3 separate regions of the Homo sapiens genome follow, and regions 1 and 2 are each linked to region 3. Evidence: fine-mapped expression QTL. A gene starts in region 3. Each other region holds a variant in brackets. All regions are shown on one strand. Distances are between the middles of the regions. Region 1 has its middle 39 kb from the start of TMEM168. Region 2 has its middle 49 kb from the start of TMEM168. Region 3 holds the start of TMEM168 (transmembrane protein 168).

The links. PIP is the estimated chance that this variant, and not a neighbour inherited with it, causes the effect. A credible set is the group of variants that fine-mapping cannot tell apart.
Region 1: its variant is the best candidate, but not a certain one, in a credible set for the expression of TMEM168 in pancreas (GTEx, PIP 0.54).
Region 2: its variant is the best candidate, but not a certain one, in a credible set for the expression of TMEM168 in whole blood (TOPMed, PIP 0.52).

Annotation. Positions count from the first base shown.
Region 1 is chr7:112,747,364-112,755,552 of GRCh38, reverse strand. No RefSeq gene overlaps it. Among named protein-coding and RNA genes, the nearest start is that of TMEM168, 39 kb to the left of the region's middle. The variant T/C (reference allele first, on the strand shown) is at 3,467.
Region 2 is chr7:112,736,997-112,745,185 of GRCh38, reverse strand. It overlaps the pseudogene MIPEPP1. Among named protein-coding and RNA genes, the nearest start is that of TMEM168, 49 kb to the left of the region's middle. The variant G/A (reference allele first, on the strand shown) is at 3,660.
Region 3 is chr7:112,787,000-112,795,188 of GRCh38, reverse strand. It overlaps TMEM168 (transmembrane protein 168), which reads left to right and starts at 4,796. Exons shown (of 5, transcript NM_022484.6): 1 at 4,796-5,029. RefSeq lists an enhancer at 4,408-4,537.

The DNA.
Region 1 (8,189 bases), 40 kb after region 3:
TGAGAATTATCTTCCATTATTTTCTCTTTTCTCTATTTTCTGTGTGCTCACTTTATTAATATCCTACTACTGGGATGTAGGACTTAATTTTTTTTTTCTTTTTTTTTTTTTTTTTTTTTTTTTTTTGCTGCTGTTCTGCATTTTGGAAGATTTTCTTGGGTTTGCCTTCCAATACTTCTGAGATTTTTTTTTTTCTCCAGCAATCATACATTTAATTTCCAAGAACTCTCATTCTTCATAATTCCTTTTTCATGATATGGATTTAGCATCTTTTAGATTTGTTGAAATGCTAATTAGAGATTTTTTAAAGAATATTGTAGCATTTTTAATAGCAAAAAAAGTTTTCTTAAGCAAAATAAATGTTTACAGGAAAATGGATAAACATATTTATACATCCATTTAAATGAAAAATTTAGAGCTCTACTGACTGATACAGATAAATCTCAAAAACATACATACTGTTTTTTTAAAGTTGTAAATACATTAAGCATGATACCATTTATATAAAATTTTAAAACTTGGAAAGCAATGCTATATATTGATTTTGGATACATATATAATGAAAGTAATATTTTAAGAGAGTAAGAGTAATGTTATATTTTATAAAAATATACATGGAAATGACACATAAATTCAGATTAATGGTAAGGAGTTAGAGATTTAGAAGACAGTAAAGAAGACCTTGAACTTCCTTATTTTTTTTTTTAATTATACTTTAAGTTCTGGGATACATGTGCAGAAAGTGCAGGTTTGTTAAATAGGTATACACGTGCCATGGTGATTTGCTGCACCCATCAACCCATCATCTATATTAGGTATGTTTTCACTCATAAGTGGGAGTTGAACAATGAGAACACAGGGACACAGGGAGGGGAACATCACACACTGAGGCCTGTCAGTGGGTGGGGAGATAGGGGAGGGATAGCATTAGGAGAGAGTTTTTAAAGTTCTCTTTGGATTTCTGAATTTCCTTTGCTTCCTTTGGCATTTGTTGACATTCATGTTAGTTTCCCTCAGTTTCTCTTTTAAATTCCAGGCTTTTCTAAAGTAGCTGAAGATCTTTGGCTACCTCTTCATGTTTAAGGAGGGAGTAATAAAAAGGCTGGTATATGTGCTGCCTAAGTGAATGCTAAAAAGGCTGATTTAAATCTCTTTATCCATAGTGGAAACTGTCAACCAGAGGGCTTCATATTTAAGTGAAAGGGTGGGAAGCCAGCTTTTATATTATGGGGATTTTCCACATGCCCGAAAAAGGCAGGCTTTACTCTCAGGTATAAATACCTACATGCCCTTTAGAGAACTGTTTGAGTTTTTTGCCTGGAGAGTAAAACACCTGGCTATAAGCAGATGAGCATAGGGGAGAAGGGCATTTGGTCGATAGGAAGATCTTCAATTATTACAAATAGCCCCACTTCTTAACTTCTTCCTCAGTTTACCAGCAATCTCTGAGTCCTCTCTGGAGTTGTGCTCCATGAGGCTAGATAGGACATTTCAGAACCAAATGGAAGTTTTAGGACTGATAAATATATCTTAAATTTTAAAATAAATTACTGGATGTCACTCATTGTGTGTTAGGGGAGGAAGGGTATCTGGCATAGGATATCAGAGCCCGTAGAAGGAGTCCACAAAAAGGATGGTCTGACATGGGCTGAGGAGGGCATCCACACCAGCCATAGAGGTGGGATGATGAGAGATTGTCTACATAAAGGCGGACTTACAAATAAGATCATGGGGAGTAGGTTCTTCTGTTGAAGAAAGAAATTGCAAATATGGAAATGGAGAAAACTAGAATGATCCCTAAGGTGTTGGATTGAAAGATAAAGTATCAGGTATATATAGAAATGAATGTTGATATAAATATGTGTAACCATGTGTGTGTGTATTTTTTCACATATATTTGATAGATCTGTCTACTAAAAGGGCCTGAGACTACCAGTCCCCAATAGCAATGAACATACCTATATCTCAGATCTTAGCTTCTGAATATTATTCTCCACTGAAAGGAATAAGGGCTCCTTGGAGAAATAACTGATTACATCTGAATACTTTTGCTGAGGCAGCAGAAATACAAGGTGAGGTTGGAATATGTTAGTCCTAGAAAGGAAGAAGTGTTCAAATAATGATAAGAAACAAATAAAAAAAACACAGAAGTTAGTTTGAAACAACTCCCAGTGGCCAGAGATGGGGAAATTGAGTATCAAAACAAATTACAGTAATGGACCATAGCCCATTGAGTAATATAGGAAATAATGTGCCTATACTGATAAATAAATATATAAATGAAAACTTTGAAGAACAGAATATTTACATTAAAACAATAAGTGAAGAGGCATAAAAGGAGAAGAAAACAGAATACTAAAGAAATACTGGTTTGATCCAATAGAAGGCAAGAAAAAAACAACAAAGGAACAAAGAACTGATAGGATGAACAGAAAACAAATAGCAAATGCTAGGTTTACATTTAATCACATAACTATTAAATGAAATTAGGCTAATGGCTTTAATTAAAAATCAGATTATCAAACTAGAGTTTCTCAGCACCGTTGACATTTTGGAACAGATAATTCTTTGATGTAGAGGCTGTTTTGTGCATTGCAAAATGTTTAACAGTATCCCTGACCTCTACCCACTAGATACCAGTAGTACTACGCTCCTCTCTTTCACTTATGATAACTAAAATTATTTCTAGATATTGCCAACAAGGAAACTCCCCCTTATGATACCGTCAGATCTTGTGAGACTTATACGCTATCACAAGAACAGCATGGAAAAGAGCTGCCCTCATGATTCAGTTACCTCCCACAGGGTCCCTCCCACAACACATAGGAATTCAAGATGAGATGTGGTTGGGGACACAGCCAAACCATATCATGCCCCATGGTGGGGGTGAAGAAATCACCCCTGGTTGAGAACCACTTGACTAGATAAAAACCAAAATCCAATAATATGTTGTTTAAAAGAAATACATGTTAAATACAAAGATATGGGTAGTTTTAAAGAAAAGGATTCAAAAAGATATTCCATGCAAATATTAAAAATGAAATAGCTACCAGGCATGGTAGCTCAGCTACTTGGGAGGCTGAGGTGGGAGGATCACTTGTGCTAAGGAGTTTGAGATTGCAGTGAGCTATGGTCATGCTACTGAATTCCAGCGTGGGTAACAGGAGAACCTGTCTCTAAAAAAAATTTTTTTATTAATTTTTAGCTGATGGGGCTATGCTAATATCAGACAAAGTAGATTTGAAGACAAAGAACATTACCAGAGATAGGTAGATCCTTTTATCATCATGAACTATCTCTGTCAAAGGGACCTAAATGTGCAAGTACCTGATAACAGAACTTCAAAATACACCGAGAATAAATAGACATAAAGGAAAACCATAGAAAATTCCATTATCATATTTGACAATTTAAACACTGCTCTTTCAGTATTGCTAGAGCAACTAGATGCAAATCAGTAAGATAA[T/C]AGACTACTTGAACAATGCTATCAACCAACCTGACCTAAATGATACCTTCACAATATTACACTCAACAATTGCAGACTATACATTTGTTTCAAAGTCACCCAGAATATTCACCAAGAAAGAGCATATGCTGGGCCAACAAACAAGTATTATTAAATTCCAAGTGACTGCAACCAAACAAAATATTATTTTCTGACCACAACAGAAATAAATTAAAAATCAGTAATGAAAAGATATCTAGATAAATCCACAAGTGTTTTATAACAACATACTTCCAATAAAAGTAGAATATTTCTTTAGCGAAGACTTTTTTTGACCCATAGGATTTTCTTTGGGCCAAAGAATCATAAGGGAAACTTAAAAATATTTTCAAATGATGTCAAAGTTCTTCAAAATAATTGGGTTTTAAAGTATCCCTGATTTGCTGGTACTTTAAGCAAGTAAGTAAAGCTAGCACTGATGCAGGATTATTTTCATGCCAGTACGTAGAATATAGAAATTCATTTTTTTACTATATGTACAAGTTAAATAATATCTGAAAAAAGTTTGTCAGTTAATGTATATGTAAAGGCATATTTTACTGTTGTCTTTTTACTTTTTTTAATCTTTCAAAATACCTAACATCAAAAGACACTGGTTTGATTGATGTTTTCAAATAGTCTCACCAAAAATAATGCTAGCGGAATGAAAGTAATTGTGTATGAAAAATTTTCCATCAGATGACAGCCTTCTTTGAAAAAAAAAGTTTTTCAGAACTTTCAAATGCCTTAAAAATACTGATGCAAGATAAATTTGCTAATCAACTCAAGATTTTTTGATTTTGAACAATTGTCAAGACAGATACAGTATTTTTAATAGGTGTGACAGTTTTCTTTCAGATGATAATTATAAATTTTATAAGATTTATATTTATCTTGTTTTATTCTTTAAACAATTTTTTTGACTTTTTGAATATCTACTTAATGTTAAAATATGTTTTTTTTCTCCTTCCGACTTTTATGTTCAGAGGGTACCTGTGCAGATTTGTTACATGAGTAAGTTGTGTGTAGCGAGGTTTGGTATATAAATGATTTCATCATCCAGGTAGTGAGCATAGTACCCAATAGGTAGTGTTTCAATCCTCATCTTCCTCCCACCCTCTACCCTCAAGTAGGTCCCAGTATCTGTTGTTCCTTTCTTTGTGTCCATGTGTACTCAGCGTTTAACTCACACTTCTTATAAGTAAGAACAATATTTGGTTTTCTGTTCCTGCATTAATTCACTTAGGGTAATAGTCTCCAGCCTCATCCATGTTGCTGCAAAGGACATGATTTTATTATTTTTTATGGCCATGTAATATTGTGTAGTATACATGTACCACATTTTCTTTATCCAGTCCACCGTTGATGGGCATCTAGTTAAGCTCCATGTCTTTGCTCTTGTGCATGAGAAGTGCTGTGATGAGCATACACATGCATGTGTCTTTATGGTAGAACAATTTATATTCCTTTGGTTATATACGCAGTAATGGGATTGCTGGGTCAAATGATAGTTCTGTTTTCAGTTCTTTGAGAAATCTCCAAACTACTTTGCAGTGGCTGAACTAATTTACATGCCTACCAACAGTGTGTAAGTGTTCTCTTCTATCCACAACCTTGCCAACATCTGTTACTTTTTGACTTTTTAAAAATAGCCATTCTGACTGGTGTGAGATGGTATTTCATTGAGCTTTGATTGGCATTTCTCTAATGATGAATAATGTTGAGCATTTTTTTCATATGGTTTTCAGCTGTGTGTATGTCTTCTTTTGAGATGTGTCTGTTTATGTTTAAAGGCATATTTAGGATAACAACCAAATCATAAGATTTTGCTAAGTATCAATATATAGTCATGTATTGCTTAACAATGGGGATACATTCTGAGAAATGCATCGTTAGGTGATTTCCTTGTTGTGTGAATATCAAAGTGTGCTTACATAAATCTAGATGGTATTGCCTGCTAAACACCTAAGCTATATGATGTAGCCACCATCATTGATGTGCTCCACCCTTGACCAAAATGTTGTTATGCTGCACACGACTGCATAAAAAACCTGAAGCCATTTTTCAAATCCAGGGACCCTGGTGTCCCCCTTGTGGAGCATTATAGAGTCACAGAGGATAAAACCTCCAAAAGAGAATGAACGCAGAACTTTCCTCACATGAAACCATTCTCTCTACTTATTGTCAGAGGATGATGTTTCAACTGAGTGTCTACTCTGACTCTAGAAAGTGATTTTCATCCTTGGATACAGTCACTGAAGTATCTTGCCTGACTGTGACCATTTACTGTGGAGATACAGCTTAGCTTATTCTGACACTTCAAAATTAGACATTCCTACCATAGGCTGGTTTTGACAACTTTGCCCTGGATACGATAAAAGTCTTCCCTTATAGAACTTCATCAAAGTCTGTGACTGCCTGTGAGTATTTCCTGAACACCTGTAGTTCTCTCTCAATTGTTTTTATCTGGCTTATGCAAATCGTTGCCTAGAATCCCAAACAGGAATCCTGTGTAGTACACATATTCACTTAATCCTGTATCATACTTGCCTGCTCTTTAATTGGTCATACTTGCTATAATAGATTGTGAAACCCATTCTCAAGCCCAACTAGCTTTGGATAGCCAAAGAAAGAGGTCATCAAAACCATTAAAATGGTTTCCTTGCATCCTTGGGCAGTCATTTACCCTTCATTTTTAACCTCACACTTATAAAAATGGAAGACTAAAGAAGGTAATAAATATAATGTTAACATTTAGTTGTTCAGAACAGAGAATAAAGAAATTCAATGTTATTTCATAAAGAATTCAATGTTATTTTGTAAGTCCAGAAATTGTTTTGAGTGCAGTCAGTGTTGGGATTGTAGAAAATTATGGTTGTAACTAATATTTTGCATATAAGGCATTTCCAACTAGGAATGAGCTTATAACTTTAGCTAGCATGTGAAAAGGAATAATTTTAGTGATGGATCCTAATCAGGATAAAAGATTGTTAAGTCTGTATCTAGACATTTCACAGTGAAATTGCAGGGAAAAAAAATCTAAAGCAAATAGTTTTTTTTATTATTTATTTGTTTGTTTGTTTGTTTTTTGAGACACAGTCTCTTTCTGTTGCCCAGGCTGGAGTGCAGTGGCATGATCTCAGCTCACTGCAGCCTCAACCTCCCAGGCTCAAGTGATACTCTCGCCTCACCCTACCAGGTAGCTGGGACAACAGGCATGAGCCACTACACCCAACTAATTTTTGTATTTGTTGTAGAGATGGGGTTTCTCCATGTTGCCCAGGCTGGCAAATAGATTTTTAAAGTAACAGATTATCTTCAAAGTGGCAAAATGTACCCTGTCAGCTCTGGTTTAGCAGTAGTATGAAAAAATCAAGGGACAACAATTATATAACCAATATACTAAAAGAAAATAATGACTAACATAGAATTCTATGCTTCAGGAATGAAGCATTCTTCATTCTTCAGGAATGAAAATGAATAATATCCTTCAGGAATGAAAATGAATAAAGACATTGTCAGTCAAAAACTGAGAGAATTTGCTACCAGCAGACTTCCAGGAAGGAAATAGGCATGTTAGGCAGAAGAAAAATACCAGCTATGCAGGCAAGAAAGAATATTTAAAAAGCCATAAATTAGTAGATAAATCTAAAAGAACATTGACTATGTAAAATAATAACAGTAAAGTTTTGTGGAGTTTAAAATATAGAGAGAATCAAAATAAAGGTCATATGTCCAACAATAGTATATTAGTTGTATTTTCCTACTAGAGGGTTAAGGTACTAATTTGTCACTTCTAGGGTAAAAAAATTGCATAGTTTTCAGACTAACAGGAAAACAGAATTTAAAAATCAATCACTTCATAAAAAGGCAAGAAGAGAGAGAAAACAAAACAGAATAGGCAGGACAAATAGCACAGTAAGAAGGTTGATTTAAACCCACATTTACCACTTCAAAACTTTTGAGGATGATATATAGGAGTATATTAGTCCTTTCTCTCATTGCCATAAAGAAATACCTGAGACTGGGTAATTTATTTATTTATTTATTTAATTTTTTTTGAGAGAGAGTTTCACTCTTGTTTCCCAGGCTGGAGTGCAATGGCGCAATCTCAGCTCACTGCAACCTCCGCCTCCCGGGTTCAAGCAATTCTCCTGCCTCAGTCTCCCAAGTAGCTGGGATTACAGGCATGCGCCACCACACCCAGCTAATTTTGTATTTTTAGTAGAGATGGGGTTTCTCCATGTTGGCCAGGCTGGTCTCGAACTCCCGACCTCAGGTGATCTGCCCACCTTGGCCTCCCAAAGTGCTGGGGTTATAGATGTGAGCCACTGCGCCCAGCCAAGACTGGGTAATTTATAAAGAAAAGAGGTTTAATTTGCCTATGGTTTGGCAAGCTGTACAGGAAGCATGATGCTGGCATCTGCTTGGCTTCTGGGGAGACCTCAGGAAACTTACAATTATGGTGGAAGGCAAAGTGGGAGCAGGCACATCACACGGCCACAGCAGGAGGAAGAGTGAGAGGAGGGAGACGCCACACACTTTTAAACAACCAGATCTCATGAGGACGCACTCACTATCATGTAGACAGTACCAAGGGGATGGTGCTAAATCATTAATGAGAAGCCACCCCCATGAGCCAATCACCTCCCACCCAATAGGCCCAACCACCAACACTGGGGATTACAATTCGACATGAGATTTG
Region 2 (8,189 bases), 50 kb after region 3:
TCTGTGTAGAAAATAAGGTTTGAAAACAGGATTTTATAAGCCTGCTTGTAACCAGTGGTGGGGCAAAACTGTTCAATATAGCTTTGTTGTTACTGGAACTATGTTAAAAATAAATTGCCAGAAGCTGATTGATTTAAGAGATGTTTTTGAACTTATCACTAGAGGATAGCTACCATTGGCTAACAGCCAACCTCTGTTGTAAGCCCTTGACATATGTTAACTCATTTAATCTTTTTCACAATCCTTTCAAGGAGGTACTATTATTCTTATTTTAGGAATGAGAAAGTGAGGCAGAGAGGTAAAATAAGGTAAAAATAATTCACCCGAGATCACCAAGTAGGAAAGGGAGGGGTCCACCCTGGGTGATCTGGCTCTGAAGCCTGATTCTAACCACATATGGTAAGCTCTCTTCAACTGAGTGTTCGAATCAAGTGGCAATGTTCTTTCATTAAAGGCATAGAAGTATATTTGGAAGAATTCTAGTATATGTGGGAGGCCTTGAAGAATCTTCAAAATTGAACCAATCATTAGTGGGAATATCAAACTTTCACTGGATTCTTCCTGCTCTAACAAAAAGATTAACCCTGTAATCTGCAAACATTCAGCCCCAGACATTTAAATTCTTACTAAATACTCTATGTTATCTCATTTAATCCTCATAACAACCCTATAGACTAGAGTGGATTTTATTTTCTCCATTTAAATTAACACATGACATGGACTTTTACAAAATGAGGGTGGACACCACAAATATAAATTCTGAAAATGCCAAGGGATTTATATATTACTATATCCTTTTTATAGATTTATGAAAAAATTTTGCTTAAAAAACCTGAGACCACAAATACCAACATATCTGGTTCTATAAGAATTGCGATAGGAAGCACTACTATAGAAGAACAAACTAACATAATAAGTTAATGTAAGAGATATATAGGGTAATGATACTTGGGTAATGTGGAAGTTGGGTTGGTTCATAGACTGTTTTTTATAGTTAAGGACATTTAAAATTGTAGAATTACAAACCTCAGCAGAAGGAAAAAAAAAAAAAAGACCTCAGCTGGGCTGGTAACATTAGCCTTGTTAGCTGTATTCTAGGAAAATTAGAAACAAGAGCTCTCTCCCCAGAGAAGTGCCCCAGGCTGCAGCAGCTCAACTCCAAACAGGTTTCACTACCTCCTATGCCCACTTAGAGGGAGGCTCCACAGGCTCTAATCTCTGTGTTCTCTGGCCATGCTTGAGTGTCTACCAGCCCTCTCCTAATTAAATTTTGTCAACACTTCTATTCTAGTTCTTTGTTCAATCTAATATTCCCTGTAGTGAATTCCAATCGCACTGAGCTGCCTGCCTTAACAGGCCATTTTAATACCCAGGTACCTGTGATTTTTTTTTTTTTTTTTTTTTTTGGTGGTGGTTTTTAGTGCTCTGGTTATCATTAAGATGTTATTTTATTATTTACGTTATAAGATAAAAAATAAAATAATCATAAACATGGAAAAGATTTTTATTAAAGGGTAATATCTCTCCTGGCATTGCAATTTTCCATCCACCTTTATGTTTATTTTTGCCATTGGTCTTCACCTGATTTGGGGTGGGGAGCAGATATCAAAGTCACTTAGGAAAAGCTTTTAAATAATTCGTACCCTCCTACTCTTCCCTTCTGCAAGATTATGTTTTGTTGAAAACAACCATTTTTTAAAAATCAAGCATAACCTACATTTCCCCAATTCCTCAAAGTTCTTAAACAAGAGTTTCAAAATCCTTAGGAATTTATAGACCTTTTTATTTTTTTAAGGCAGGGAGGAGGGCTTTATGTTTAAATGTACTTATATAACAAGCTTTCCTGGCCATGAGTAAAACATCCTGTTTTATGTTAAGCACCATCACATAACAAGATATAACCGTATATGTTTTTGCAGCAGTTTTAAAGTTTCTTTCATTTCTAAATTGAAAAAGATACTATTAATTTTAAAATTTCAGTTAAAGGAAAAAAGGTAATTGAAGACCCCTTCCTGTGTTAAGGAACCATAGATTATTCAATAGTATTCTCTGAAGGTTCTCAAAATAAAATTATTTCCATCCTGATTTTAATTTAAGGGAATCTTAACTAGCACATTTACTTTAAATATGTACTTCCTCTGTTGTTCTCTCTTCTCTATCTCCCAAGTGGCTTTTTCATCCAGAAATTGGAAGGCACTACACCTTTAGGCTAGTAGCCTTTGGGTGAATGAAAAACAGAGTTCAGACTGAAGAAGTGTTGTGCGTGTCTGCTCAGACTATCTTTCTTCCATCATCTCCTGCTACTAATTCTTCACCAGTAAAAGTGTACATTCCCGTCCCCACCCCAAGGTTAGATAATTGGGGAGTTGTTGGGAGTCTCTTATTAGTTGGCACAGCTGAGTTTTATTTATTTATAATTTATACTCCATGTATCTCCAACATATTTGAGGTGGTCAACAATAAAACTAGTATGTCCATTATAGAAATTAAAAGTAATCTTTCCCATTTTCCCAACTAATCCCTGAATACACCCCCCTCCCCTCCCCCACAATAATAGAAAGAAGTAAAATTTAACTTTGATTCAGCCTTGGTTAAAATGATAGGAAAGCATAAGTTACAATAATATTTGATTATTTCTGATCATCTCAAGAACATAGGAATCAAAAATATTGGATAGGTGGGGAAAACATTTTATTTAGAATTAAATGAATGTGCCAGTTACTAAGTTTTTGTTTCTCAGCATCAAATCTATCCATTCTGTGCTACATAATGCTGGAGCTGAGACTTTACAAACTACATTCCAGCTGGCTCCCTCTTAAGTTCTGCCAATTATGGTGATGACAGGAGGTTGTTTAGAAGGACAGCACAAGGTGGAGACAGGAAGAAAGAACTACTTGCTCTTGCCTGCTTCCTCTTCCTGGAAGCATCAGCCCTACATTGCTTTTTCACCCTAAGAAGGCAATTCCGCTCCCCAATGCTGCCTCACCCTGAGAGGGCAAGTCCTTCCCATCACAACTCTTATAGAACCAGCCTTTTTGCACCTTGTCAGAGACACAAAAACTAGCTATCTAAAGACCCCTTTTTAGAGATCTGAGTTTCAGAGCTTCTTGTCTCCAAGCTTCCAAGTTTTAATACAGATTGAACATCCCTAATTCAACAACCTGAAATTTTAAATGCTCCAAAATCTGAAACTCTGAGGACTGACATGATGCCACAGGTGGAAATTTTCACAGTTGACCTCATGTGATGGGTCACAGCCAAAATACAGTCAAAACTTTGTTTTATCCACAAAATTATTTAAAATCTTATATAAAATTATCTTCAGGCTATATATATGTATATGGAACATAAGTGAATTCCATGTTTAGACTTGGGTGCCATCCCCAAGGTATCTCATTATGTATATGCAAATATTCCAAAATCTGAAGAAAGCTGAAATCAAACACTTCTGGTCCTAAGCATTTTGGATAAGAAATACTCAAACCTGTATGTGCAACCTCTTCCCTTTGTTCCCCCAGCCCTAGGAGTGGTATCTGCTCCTGCAGTTGCTTTATGTTTCCTTTTTGCCTTTTTAGCCACCTAACTAACAACTTTATACCTAATTAACAATTCCTTATGTTATATTTTCTGTTAAATAAGTAGTGTGACTACTATATCCC[G/A]ACAGGATCTTAATGGCTACAATGGATAGAGGCCATGTCTCTTATTATCTTCACTTATGTGAAGCAGTATGCCTCCTAAGATAGTCTAACACTCTCTTCCAGAGCTATTAATACAAAGATCTTCCCATGATAGTCAATTTTTGTTAAAGTTTCTCCAACCACACTGGAAGCAAGAAAAAAATTATTTTTTTAAAAAAGTTTGTTTTAACAAGGAGGCAAGTAAGACATTCTTTTATTCCCTTTTTTATTTTTGGCAAAATATGCTTATTGTAAAAATTGTCGTTTGCTCTTTTTTATGGTGTAAATGAACTTTGTTAGACCTATGACTGCATGCATTATATATGGGTCAGAAAAGCCAGACTCTAGGTCTAATTTTTCTATTTGTTAGCTTGGTAAATAAAATGAAGATGGTGGTGCTAGCAGCTTAAAAACTACACCCAATGGGAAGTCTGGATTATTTAATGATTTACTACTGGAAAATTAAAAATAAATTTAAAAGAATGCTAGAAAGATCACAAGTTCTATAAAGAGAGAGATCACTGGGAGCCTGGGATTATATTCTCAAATGAAATTTTAACTTTCAGCTCTCTGGCAAGCCAAGGAAATAATCATTGCTTTTATGTACAAGTAAAGAAGTGACATCATCAAAATTGCTGACTAGTGATGCTTGATACGCATCCCTCCCACAAGGACCAAGGCAACAAATAAACAGCTAAGATTTTACTGGGATGTTGAAGGGAGAGTGCTGATGTGCAGCAAGGGAGTGGAGATGCACCTGTGGTGATTCACTGACATCCAGGAGGGCGGTATGGAGGTACCTGGTGTCTGCAACCATCTCCCCTGCTCAGATTGAATCTGCCAGGAGTCAGGAGGAACTTCCCATTTCAGGGGGAAAAGGTAGGCAAAAGATCCCCACCAGTCGCCATTGCCACCACAAACACTCACAGTTCTTAGGACAGGAGAATCACATGCTCCTTGCAAGCCCTGAGCCCAGTTTGGAGAACTGCCAGGAATTCATGCAGCTGCATTGCCCCAGTTTAGGGGCATGACGTGTATACTTCCCACCCACCACTCACCCTCTGCAAGACAAGCTGGTGCAGCATCGCATCATGAGAACAGAGCCATCTCTGTAGTGCACCTTGTTCTGATGGCCAGTAGCCACTGTTCCTCTCCAATACTGGGGCTTCATCTTAATTTTACCAAGCCTACACAGGTGGCTGAATGCCACAACTCCATCTGCACAAAGCTCAGGCCCAGGGTAGGTTGTGATTCAGGTCTTGCACAGCAAGGTAACCCACCCATCCCTGCTGCCACACTTCCACCTGAATGAACAGTCTGGCAGTCCCACCCAGGGTGAACTCAACCTTGAGCCAGCCAAACCACTGCATGCCCCCCTCAAAGTAGGAGAGGCATCCAAGCCTCTGAACAGCTAATACATACTTCAGGCTGGTGGCGCAGCTACACACTTCTGCTCAGGACCTGAAAAATAGCCCTGTCCCTGTAGTGTCCTCCCACTCCCCAGCAGACATGCCCCTAGCCTGCCCAATGGCCCTGCACCTGCAATCAAGATCTGAGACACAGTCCCACAGTCTGGCTTCTGGTGGGCACAACCCTAGGCCAGCCAAGCAGCTTTGAGCCCATGACCTGGACCTAAGAAACAGTCCCCAAAGGCTATCCTGAGCTAGCTGAGCTGCCTAACACCTGTGTCCCAAAATTGAGAAACACTCCGGTGGGTCCCCCTTCCCCAGAGCAGACACACCCTTAGGCCATCTGAGCAGCCTTGCACCCATGTCTCAGGCCTGAAAAACAGTACTGTGGGCTATCCCTGGTAGATATACTACCAAGCCAGCTGACCAGCTGTGTGCCTACATTCTGGACGTGAGAACAATTCCACAATGTACTCCTGGCAGGCATGCCACAAGGCCAGCCAAGCAAATGTGTGCCCATGCTCCCAGCCACAGTAATAACTCCATGGCCTCAATTCCAGTGAGCCAGACCCCAAGGTGACTGAACCACTATGTGCACACACACTCCCCAAACCTAAGAAATAGCCTGGAGAACCCACTCCCAGCATAGGAACCCACTCCCATTACCATCAAAATCTTAGCCTAGGACACTGAGACACTCATAAATGTTACTAGTGTGGATTACAGCTGAAAAAAAAAAAAAGACTACATGGAGACTACACTACAGTGTCCACCCAGAACCAAGGCCAACACTCCAAGACCCATTCATACAAATAAGCTTTTCCCTATGAAACCTACTTCATAAAATTGGAAGAGGCAATTTTTCCACCAGATATGTAGAAATCAATGTAGGAACATGTTGAACATGAAAAAGAAAGGAAACATGACACCTCCAAAGGAAAACAATGTCTCCAGTAATAGACCCCAATCATAAGGAAATATGTCAAATGCCAAAAATGAATTCTAAATAATAGTAAGGAAACTCAGTGAGATACAAGAGAACACAGATAGACAATTCAGTGAAATCAGGAAAGTAATTATTTGAATGAGAAATCCAACAAAGACAGATATCATTAAAAAAGAGCCAAACAGAAATCCTAGAGCTGAAGAATTCAATGAATGAAATGACAAAATACAATCCAGAGCTTCAACAACAGACTAGACCAAGCAGAAGAAATAATTTCTGAACTTGAAGGCAGGTATTTTGAAATATTACAAGTGAACAAAAGAAAGAAGGAAAGAAAGAAAAGAAAAAAGCATTTTAAAAATGAAGAAAGCCCGGAAATGCAGAACGTGCACTCCTGGCTGGAGCTGCAGCACTGGAGCAAGGGTCTTGCAGCTGGGCATGGGGTTACTGCACAAACACTATGTGCCCAAAGGCTAGGCTGCTTTGTAGCTGGAGTAGTGCCCCTGTGGCCAGGGCGGGTAGGCAGGGGCAGCCTCAGAGTTGATACCCATGTGGAAGGGTCAGCATCTGCTGGTCCCTGGTGGGCTCCGCCTTCAATGTCAGGGCTACCACTTGGACCTGTTTAGTGAGCACTGGGGTCTTTTTGGATGTCCTGAGCTCAGCGCTCCAGAAAAATTTAATATTGCCCAATAAAAAGCCTTGAGAAAGACAGAATTGCTTGTGGAACATGCATGTTCCACCCCACCTGGACCCCAGATTGTGCGCATCTTCGATGAGCTCTCAGATTCCTTGTTCAGAGTGGCTGACTTGGATGAACACAAATGTGGAATTATGTCAAAGTTTGCAAAAATTACTAGCTGATTAAAAACAAAACAAAAACTAGGCAAGTGGCCTAACTGTTTATGTTTGATTTTGAAATTAGTGGAATCCATCTAGACAAAGAAAAGTGTAAAAGAGCAGTGGACCTCAATGTTAAAATCTTGGATTTGAGTAGTACATGTCTTACGGCAAACAACTTTCCCAACAAGATTGAGAAGCATCTCTTACTAGAACACATTCACCATAACTTTTATCTGATGGGGATCGTATCATAATTGATGGTCTCCATGCAGAAGCACCAGGCGACTTGGTGTGAGAAGCTGCTTACAAAATTTTTCTTCATCCCTATACTGGTCAGTTAAAATGTTTAGAAGAATTGCTCAGCAACAGAGATCCTCTGCAAAAGTTGGTAGGGTATTCTGTGTTTTCCAGCAGGGCTCTCCAAGGAACAATAGTTAAAAATTCAGAGACTGTCATCCAGTTCCCTGAGAAACTCTCTGACAAACTTTCTGAAAGAACTTGAAAAGATTTTGAGATGATACGACAGATGAAAAGTGAAACAGAAGAACAAAGCTTTAGGCATCATGCTACCTGACTTCAAACTATACTACAAGGCTACAGTAACCAAAACAGCATGGTACTGGTACCAAAACAGAGATATAGATCAATGGAACAGAACAGAGCCCTCAGAAATAATGCCACATATCTACAACTATCTGATCTTTGACAAACCTGAGAAAAACAAGCAATGGGGAAAGGATTCCCTATTTAATAAATGGTGCTGGGAAAACTGGCTAGCCATATGTAGAAAGCTGAAACTGGATCCCTTCCTTACACCTTATACAAAAATTAATTCAAGATGGATTAAAGACTTAAACATTAGACCTAAAACCATAAAAAACCCTAGAAGAAAACCTAGGGATTACCATTCAGGTCATAGTCATGGGCAAGAACTTCATGTCTAAAACACCAAAAGCAATGGCAACAAAAGCCAAAATTGACAAATGGGATCTAATTAAACTAAAGAGCTTCTGCACAGCAAAAGAAACCACCATCAGAGTGAACATGCAACCTACAAAATGGGAGAAGATTTTCACAACCTACTCATCTGACAAAGGGCTAATATCCAGAATCTACAATGAACTCAAACAAATTTCCAAGAAAAAAACAAACAACCCCATCAAAAAGTGGGCGAAGGACATGAACAGACACTTCTCAAAAGAAGACATTTATGCAGCCAAAAAACACATGAAAAAATGCTCAACATCACTGGCCATCAGAGAAATGCAAATCAAAACTACAATGAGATACCATCTCACACCAGTTAGAATGGCGATC
Region 3 (8,189 bases):
ACAAAACGTTTCCCTTCTTGCAAGAAAATCAGCCATATGAATAAAGAGCCTTAACGATGTTCAAATTCTTTAACCTATCTAGGAATCTACGTTCCGAAGTGATAATCAGAAATGCAGTACATCACAAATGCAATAAGCCCTAGTGCAGCACTTTCAACAGCAAAAATTGTAACATTCCAAATATTCAAAATTAGGGGAAGAATTAATCATAGTTCAGCCATATGAATAAATACTTGCCATCATTAATACAGTGAAAAGACTAATGAAATAAGGAGCATCACTTAGAACAGCAAACCAAAAGTGTTCAAACAGTTATGATGCTTATTATCTCACTTTAGAATTTTGGAGGTAGAAAAAAAGCAATTAGTTAACTCTGGCAAATACTGCTTGCTGTCATCCAATATTTATTCTCCTTTCTCTGAAAGAGAACCCTGATTTTAGGTGGGCACATGGCCGCCCCCGAAATTACCACCTTTTGCAGACTCTATAAATACTAAATACTAGTCAATGTGATATAAGCTGATGTGTCATACGGCTTCCAAGAAGTGTCAAAGTAAGGGTGGGGGGAAGTGCATTTCCTACTTGCTGACTGGAATTCAGAAGTCATAGCTGGAAATCAGGCAGCCATCTTGGCCTATGAAGAGGAAGCCACATCCTGAGAATGGTAGGGTAGAAAAAAAGAAGGAATCAGGATCTCTAACACCAAGGAGGACGATGTCTGCTCTGGAACACCTACTTCTAGACCGTTTTTACAAGACAGAGAAATAAACTGCAATTAAGACACTGTTGAGTCTTCTGATACACACATCTGAACCGAATCCCAAAATCTCGGCTCTACCCTTAGAGTTCCTGATTCAGTAGGTCTGGGGATAGGGCCTTATAATTTCCATTTCTAACTAGGTCCCAGGTGATGTTAATGCAGCTTGTCTGGGGACCATACCTGAAGAACCACTGCACTAATGGAGGTAATAACTTAGTAGTTTTCAAGCTGTGCTTTACATTAGAATCACTGGAAAAGAGGGAGGCTTTAAAACACACACACACACACACACACACACACACACACACACACACCCAAGGCTAATTTCAGAAACTCTAACTGGTCTGGGCCAGATGATTCTAAGGTGTAGACTGAATGATGTAACTCTTTCCCTACTTACTGAAACAATAGTAATGAGAAAGAAATACCTGTGTTTCCTCACAGAGTGGGGGTTGATATTTAGAAAGCTGCTCTTGATGGCCCAGAACTTGAAGCCAAAAGACTGAATTTAATTCCCTGATCTTAGACAGTTATGAGGACCTAGAACAACGTAGTATCTCTGGACCTTGGTTACATTATTTGCAAAATGGTGATGAAAATATTTACATCATTGGGTTTTTGTGTAGATTATGTAATATAGGTGAAAGTACTTTATATTACACAGAATAAGGGAGGCCCAGCTGATTTTCTATGGAGAATCTGAGTTAGTTTAGCCCTACGACTGAACTGAATAAATGGAAAAAATAGGAGAAAAACAATAGAGAACATAAGAAATAACATAGGACTCATCTGTGACTCCCTGCCAGAGGACTGGAATGTGTGATAAGATCCACCGTACCTCCTGTGATGCGTGCTGCTCCCTCTTCCTTTTCTTGACTTATTATCATGAGTATATTTTCAACAGGTGTTCCTAGTCTGAAATAACTCCTCAGGTGATATTCCTGGCCTGAAGCACACAGACCTTGTCTGTATAGAAGTAGGTGTTAAAGAATGGATATTCTAGTGATTAGGATCATTATACTGCCATCATTAACCAGAACCTGAAATCACCAGTCTCTGCAATGGTTCCCAGGTGGCTGTTTTATATTTAGGTGTCTGGCTGCGGATGTACCAGATGTCGCAAATTGACCCTTTCTTCTTTCAGGATAAAGGGGGATTTAGATTGGGTCCTTGAGGGCCTCAGGTGCCAGACTGAATTTGGACTTTATTCTGTAGCCTGTATAAATCACTGGTTTTAATCCCAGAAGTGTCAAAGCATGGTGCTCTGAGAGCATCAGCCAGGGGCCTGTGTAATGGGTTAGACTGAGCTGAGGCTGAAATCAAGATGACCAGCATAGAGGTTACTGAAGTAATACCGTAACAGAGTAGAAGCAATAGAAGTTGATGGGAAATAATAAATGCAAGAGATAGGGTGGATGAAAATGAACAGCACTTGGTCATTCATAAGTGTCAAATTTTTTTTGGTAAATACTGGTATCCTTCAATAACTAAAGATTGACAAGGCTATCTTTCTCCTCCCTCGGTACTAGGTAGTGTCATACAGTTAAAACAAGTCTCAGACTGAATGCTACTACACAAATCTTATCAGCAAGCAGACACAAAAAACAGTACACAAACAGTACTTTGTGGCAAAATATTAAACAGAAGTCTAGACTAAGCCATTCTGAAGGCTGTCGGTCTGCTACACAGCAGATTTCTACGCCACAGTTATGCATAAGTGCTTGTACAGTATTCTAACCAGCCACGTATTTTGAACATCTTGTTTCCACAATGAAGAATTCTTTCTAATCCTTTATGCTAACTAAGGTACATCTAGTGCAGATTTACATGGTGATACTGGAAGCATCTGTGCATTCAACTCTGCAGTGAACATTTTTGATTAGTCTTTCAAATGCTAATTACCCACCCTGGGCTGTGCAGATTAACTTTCAAACATACACACATCTCACTGAAGTATTCTAAAGTATAAGGACAAGATAACAAGCATCAAAAATGGTTTTAAAGTCATAAGGCAGAAGACCATGTTAGAGGAAGATGATGAAAAACCACTGATTTAGTGAGCTGGTCTTAGTGCTAAGCAACTGAATGCAGCTGTAGCTAATTTAAGCAGAAAGTAAGTTTACTAGAGGACGCTAAGTAGTTCAAAGGATAGCTGGAGATTGAGGCTTGCACCTACATGGCCAGAATCTACCTTGGCTGTTACCGGTGGAAGGTGTCCAGGTTCTTGGCATCTTGAACAAGGAATTAGACAAAACGCACAAACAAAGCAAGGAAGGAATGAAGCAACAAAAGCAGAGATTTATTGAAAATGAAAGTACACTCCACAGGGTGTGAAGAGCCGGAACATGGGGCTCAAGAGCGGGGCGGCCGGGTTATAGAATTTTCTGGGGTATAAACACCCTCTAGAGGTTTCCCATTGGCCACTTGGTGTACACCCCACGCAAATATAGTGGCCCACAATCAGTCTGATAGCGGAAAGCAACCAATCAGAGCCTGAAGCGAAGTTACAAAGGTTACACCCTATGCAAACATTTAATTAGTTATGGAAAGCAACCAATCCGAGGTACTTTCAATTTTCCGTCTGCCACGCAGAAAAGGGCGGTGGTGGGGGAGGGGGCCGGGTCCCTTTGTTACTTAGCTGTGGAAAGTTGGGGCTTTCCTTTTGATTTAGTTCTAGAAAGTCAGCATGAATCAGCCGTAAGTTCCTTGCCTCCAGACCCTATTGTCCTGCCTCACAGCTATGTAGTACAGAGTCTGTCACAGGCTACCCAGAAATGTACACAGAGACTGTTAACAGGCTACAGAACAGATTGGGAAAGGGCTCTGGGGTTGTGACCCTCACCAAGCACAGGCATCTTGCATCTCTGACATGTTAATGGTGGATGCCAGCACTCTCACTACTGCCTCGGAAGCTTACCTTGCTGTTAGGGATGGGTTCTCGATCTCTACACTTGCTATACTCCTACAGGTGACCTGGGAGTGTAGCTTTCTGTGCCTTTTTTGACTCATGGCTTCCAGCGGGTACACATGATTAGTTAAACAAGTGTTCAGCATTTCAGCGGCAGCCATTAGACTCTTAACTCAGGTGGGGAATTCTCCAAATACGGAAGGGGATTCAAATGGGGGGCATAATAAATGTATATAAATGTCCATTAAAGGCAAGTTGAGTTGGAAGTGATGACAATATATTTGAGTAGAAACATCTAGCAGGTAGTTGGAAATGTGGCACTCGTGTTCCCCAGAGAGCTAGTTACAGATTTGGGAAGTTGAGTTGTGATTGCTTTTAAAATCAGGAGTCTAGAGAGAATCTAACTCAAAATTTTCATCCACATATGCAGAATCTCAATCTGAGAGTTGTTCATTCCTATAGATGTGCTGGCCACACCAACCCCCAACATCTATTATGAAAATTAGGAAATTCACACTCTATTATGGAAAATAGGAAAAATATATAGATAATACATGCAAAACAAGTGGGAGGAGAGAACTACGGATCGTGGAGAGCCTATTGCATATTATTATTTTACAAATATTTAAGTGCCAACTATGTGTCAGGCACTATGCTAAGGTGATTTAATGTTGAGCAAAACCCGACATGTCCCTGCATTTGAGGAACTGAAAGGTCTGAGGGAGGGCCTAAGGAGCTTGGGCCTTAGCTGGTTACAAAGCCATATATTATGCCATATATATTAATGAGCAGCAACGCCTCCCGCAGTATTTACAGCCCACGCGTGGCAGTCCTGTCCACCCTGTCCCCGTTCGGTCCAGCCCGAGGCGGTGGCCTAGATGCTTGATGGGCACTGTCAGCCTGATCTTTGGTGGTCTTCCCGCTGTCTGTTCTCAGCTGCTGATTCCAGGTCCCAGGAGTCGACTTTGGCTTGAGGAAGGCAGGCGCCTTAGGTGGGGCAGTTGACACTCGCGCAGCGCCTTGCTCACCTGAGTGTGTGGCGGCGCGCGGGTTTGGGCGGGGAGGGGGCCGGGCCTCGGGAAGGAGGCGCGCCGCGCAGTTTGACCCCGGCGGCGTTCCGTACCGTCGCGGATTTCGGCGGCGGAAACATGGCGGTCGCGGCCGGGCCGGTAACGGAGAAAGTTTACGCCGACACTGGCCTGTATTAGCGCGTATGGCCTCGGGCCCTCGTTCCCCAAGGCGTGCCGCCTCCCTGTTCTCAGTCGCAGGCTGAAGCCTTGTCTGCTCTCCTCCTTTTTGGTTTGGTTTTGGAACTGACTCCGAGGGTTGGGAGAGCGCGTTGGTGGCGACGGCCGAGTCAGGTAGGGAGAAATGGGTGGACGGCAGGGCGGCGAGATCTAGGCATAGACACTGCCAGGGCTCCGCGTGGTCCGGACCCCAAGCTCCGCCCAGTCGGCCTCCCAGGGCCGGGGTAGGATACCTGCCTCTGGAGGAGTTGACAGTGGTGGTTGGAGATTGGAGGGTGTGGGAGCGCCTCTCCGTATTTCGCAAGGGTTCCCCCTCAACTGGGCGCCACGTTGTGGTCGCGTTCTCCGAGGCAGAGGATGGTGGAGAACAGCCAAGCTCCTTGTCGGACCTCCCACATCTCGCTAGAAGGAGGCCGAAAGGGAGAGAAATTGCTGTTGCTGCTCTAGTGCTGAGGAGTTTGATATTCTAGATGACATTTTCCTCGTATGAGATGGCTCAAAGAGTTATCAGTAATTCAGAACTGAAGCACTGAAATTCCCTGTTTTTTCAGTGTAGTTCTTTCAGCCTTGACACTTCTAGATGGGACAGAGTTTCTGAGTGAAAGATAATGCAAGTGATACGGTATGCCTCAAGCCATTCCCTAGAGGTAGGACATGGAGAGAGAATTGGTTTGGAAGAATTTGGGTGAATTAAGTAAAGACTGGTGGAAAGCTGAAATAGAAACCAAACATTCATGGACTCTCCCTTAGTTCTACTAGTTATTAGTTGTGGGATATAGCTAAGTTCTGTATTCTCTTTAGGCATTAGTAAGTGTCCAATGGTGACTATTGTTGTTAAATGTAGTTATTTCTTTATTAGTCTTTATTTTTCAACAAGTATTTATTGAATACCTTCTTGATGCCGGATTTTTGCTAGTCACTGGGTGTACAGTATTGAAGACAAACCCTCAGAGACCTTTTGATCTAGTGGGAAATGCAGACATGAAATAAGTGATGGTATGTAACAGAGAAAGTATGGGGGTCATGTAATGGGGAGGGGGCAGGGATAATCTCTTAAGAAAATGATTTATCTGAGACCTGAAGAGTTGGAATAAGCCAGGTGTGAGCACTGGGGTGGGGCCAGGAGGAGGAAAAGGAGTGTACCTGGCAAGGGAATAGCATTTGTGCAGTTTGTAATTGAAAGGTCAGTAAGGTTGGAAAATAAAGTGTGAGAGGAAAACTGGTAACAGATAAGGCAGGAGAGTTATTCAGGCCCAACACGGAGTGCCTTATAAGGCACTGTAAGGAGTTTTGACTTTATTGCTAAGGGTGATGGGACGCCATTGGAGCATTTTACATAGTGGAGTGCTAAATTTTGGTTTTAAAAAGTACACTTCTTAGAGAGGGCAAGAGTGGATACAGGGAAATGTTCAACATGATGGTGGCCAAAATTGGGATGGTGACCCTGGGGACGAGAAGTAGAAACATTTAAAAAATGTTTAGGAAGAATAGTAGACAGGACTTGGTGAGGATTAAATGTAGATGATGGTGGAGAGGAGGGTTAGAATAGTATGTAAGGTTTTATGAAATAATCAGACTCTGGCAGTGATTGGTTAGCTTTTCCCATATGCATATTGACTCCTCTATGGTCCATTTTCATCTACCTCTGGAATAATTGTCCATTGAATCATTAGTGACGGCAAACCGATTGAAAAGGAATGTAATGTTTTTCTGTTATTCTCTAACTCAGGCTGTCTTTTGAAGAAGATCAGAATGGGGAAGAGTTTTGTAAATTAGCCATTTAAAAACAATCTGCCATGTTGATTTTGGTCCATAGGAAGGTAACTGCATATATTGCATTATATGGATGCACTGTACTTCACTAATTTTTTTTTTACATGTTTACATTTACTTTGTTTCCAGGTATTTACCTCTGTTAACAGTGCAGAACAGAGCTGGTGCTTCATTTTCTATAGGTAGATTAATATATGTGTGCACTTAAGTAGAGAGATAATAATCAAAGACATAGAAATAAATGACATTGCTTAGAGAAAGTATATAGTGAGAGAAAAGCCTAGGTTTGGGGTTGAACATCCAAAGGATGGGTTGAGAATGAAGAACCTTCAAGGAGACCGAGGAGGGGAAACCAATAAATTAAGAAAAAAAATCTGGGGAGTTAGTCTTTGGATGCCTGCAAAAAGGAATGGTTTGGAAGGTGAGAGAAGTCAACAATGTAAATTTGTTTAAAGAATATGCAGGATATGGCCGGGTGCAGTGGCTCACACCTGTAATCCCAGCACTTTGGGAGGCCAAGGCGGACGGATCACCTGAGGTCGGGAGTTCAAGACCAGCCTGACCAACATGGAGAAACCCCATCTCTACTAAAAATACAAAATTAGCCGGGCATGGTGGCACATGCCTGTAATTCCAGCTACTTGGGAGGCTGAGGCAGGAGAATCGCTTGAATCCGGGAGGCAGAGGTTGCGGTGAGCCGAGATCGCTCCATTGTATTCCAGCCTGGGCAACAAGAATGAAACTCTGTCTCAAAAAAAAAAAAAAAAAAAAAAAAAAAAAAAAAAAATGCCAGTCGCAGTGGCTCACGCCTGTAATCCCAGAACTTTGGGAGGCGAGGCGGGTGGATCACCTGAGGTCAGGAGTTTGAGACCAGCCTGGCCAATATGGTGAAACCCCGTCTCTACTAAAAATACAAAAATTAACTGGGCATGGCGATGGGCGCCTGTAATCCCAGCTACTCTGGAGGCTGAGGCAGGAGAATCACTTGAACCCGATAGTCAGAGGTTGCAGGAGAATCGCCTGAACCCGATAGTCGGAGGTTGCAGTGAGCCAAGATCCTGCCATTGCACTCCAGCCTGGACAACAGAGCGAGACTCCGTCCCCCCTTCCCCCTCCCCCCAAAAAAGAATATGCAGGATACTGAGTGAAAAGTACCCATTGGATTTAGGAATTTACAGGTCATTTCAACACTTAGCAGAGCAGTTGTGTGGTGGGAAACACCATTTAGTGGTTTGAAAAGTGAATGGGTAAGAAGTGAAGCAACTAAATACCAGCTGTCAAAAGGACACGAGATTGAGCTTCATAGAGGATATGGGGATGAGCAAGGATTGTTTTTGTTTTGTTTCTTTACTTTTTTGGTATTGTTTTTAAAAGAAACAGATTTATAAATGTTTAAATACTAATGGATAAAATAAAAGTGAGAGTTTGCAGAGAGAGGAGAGAGTCTGATGTTCTAGAAGAGGCGGAAGGAAAGATGCACAATATGGCTGAAAGGTTTAGC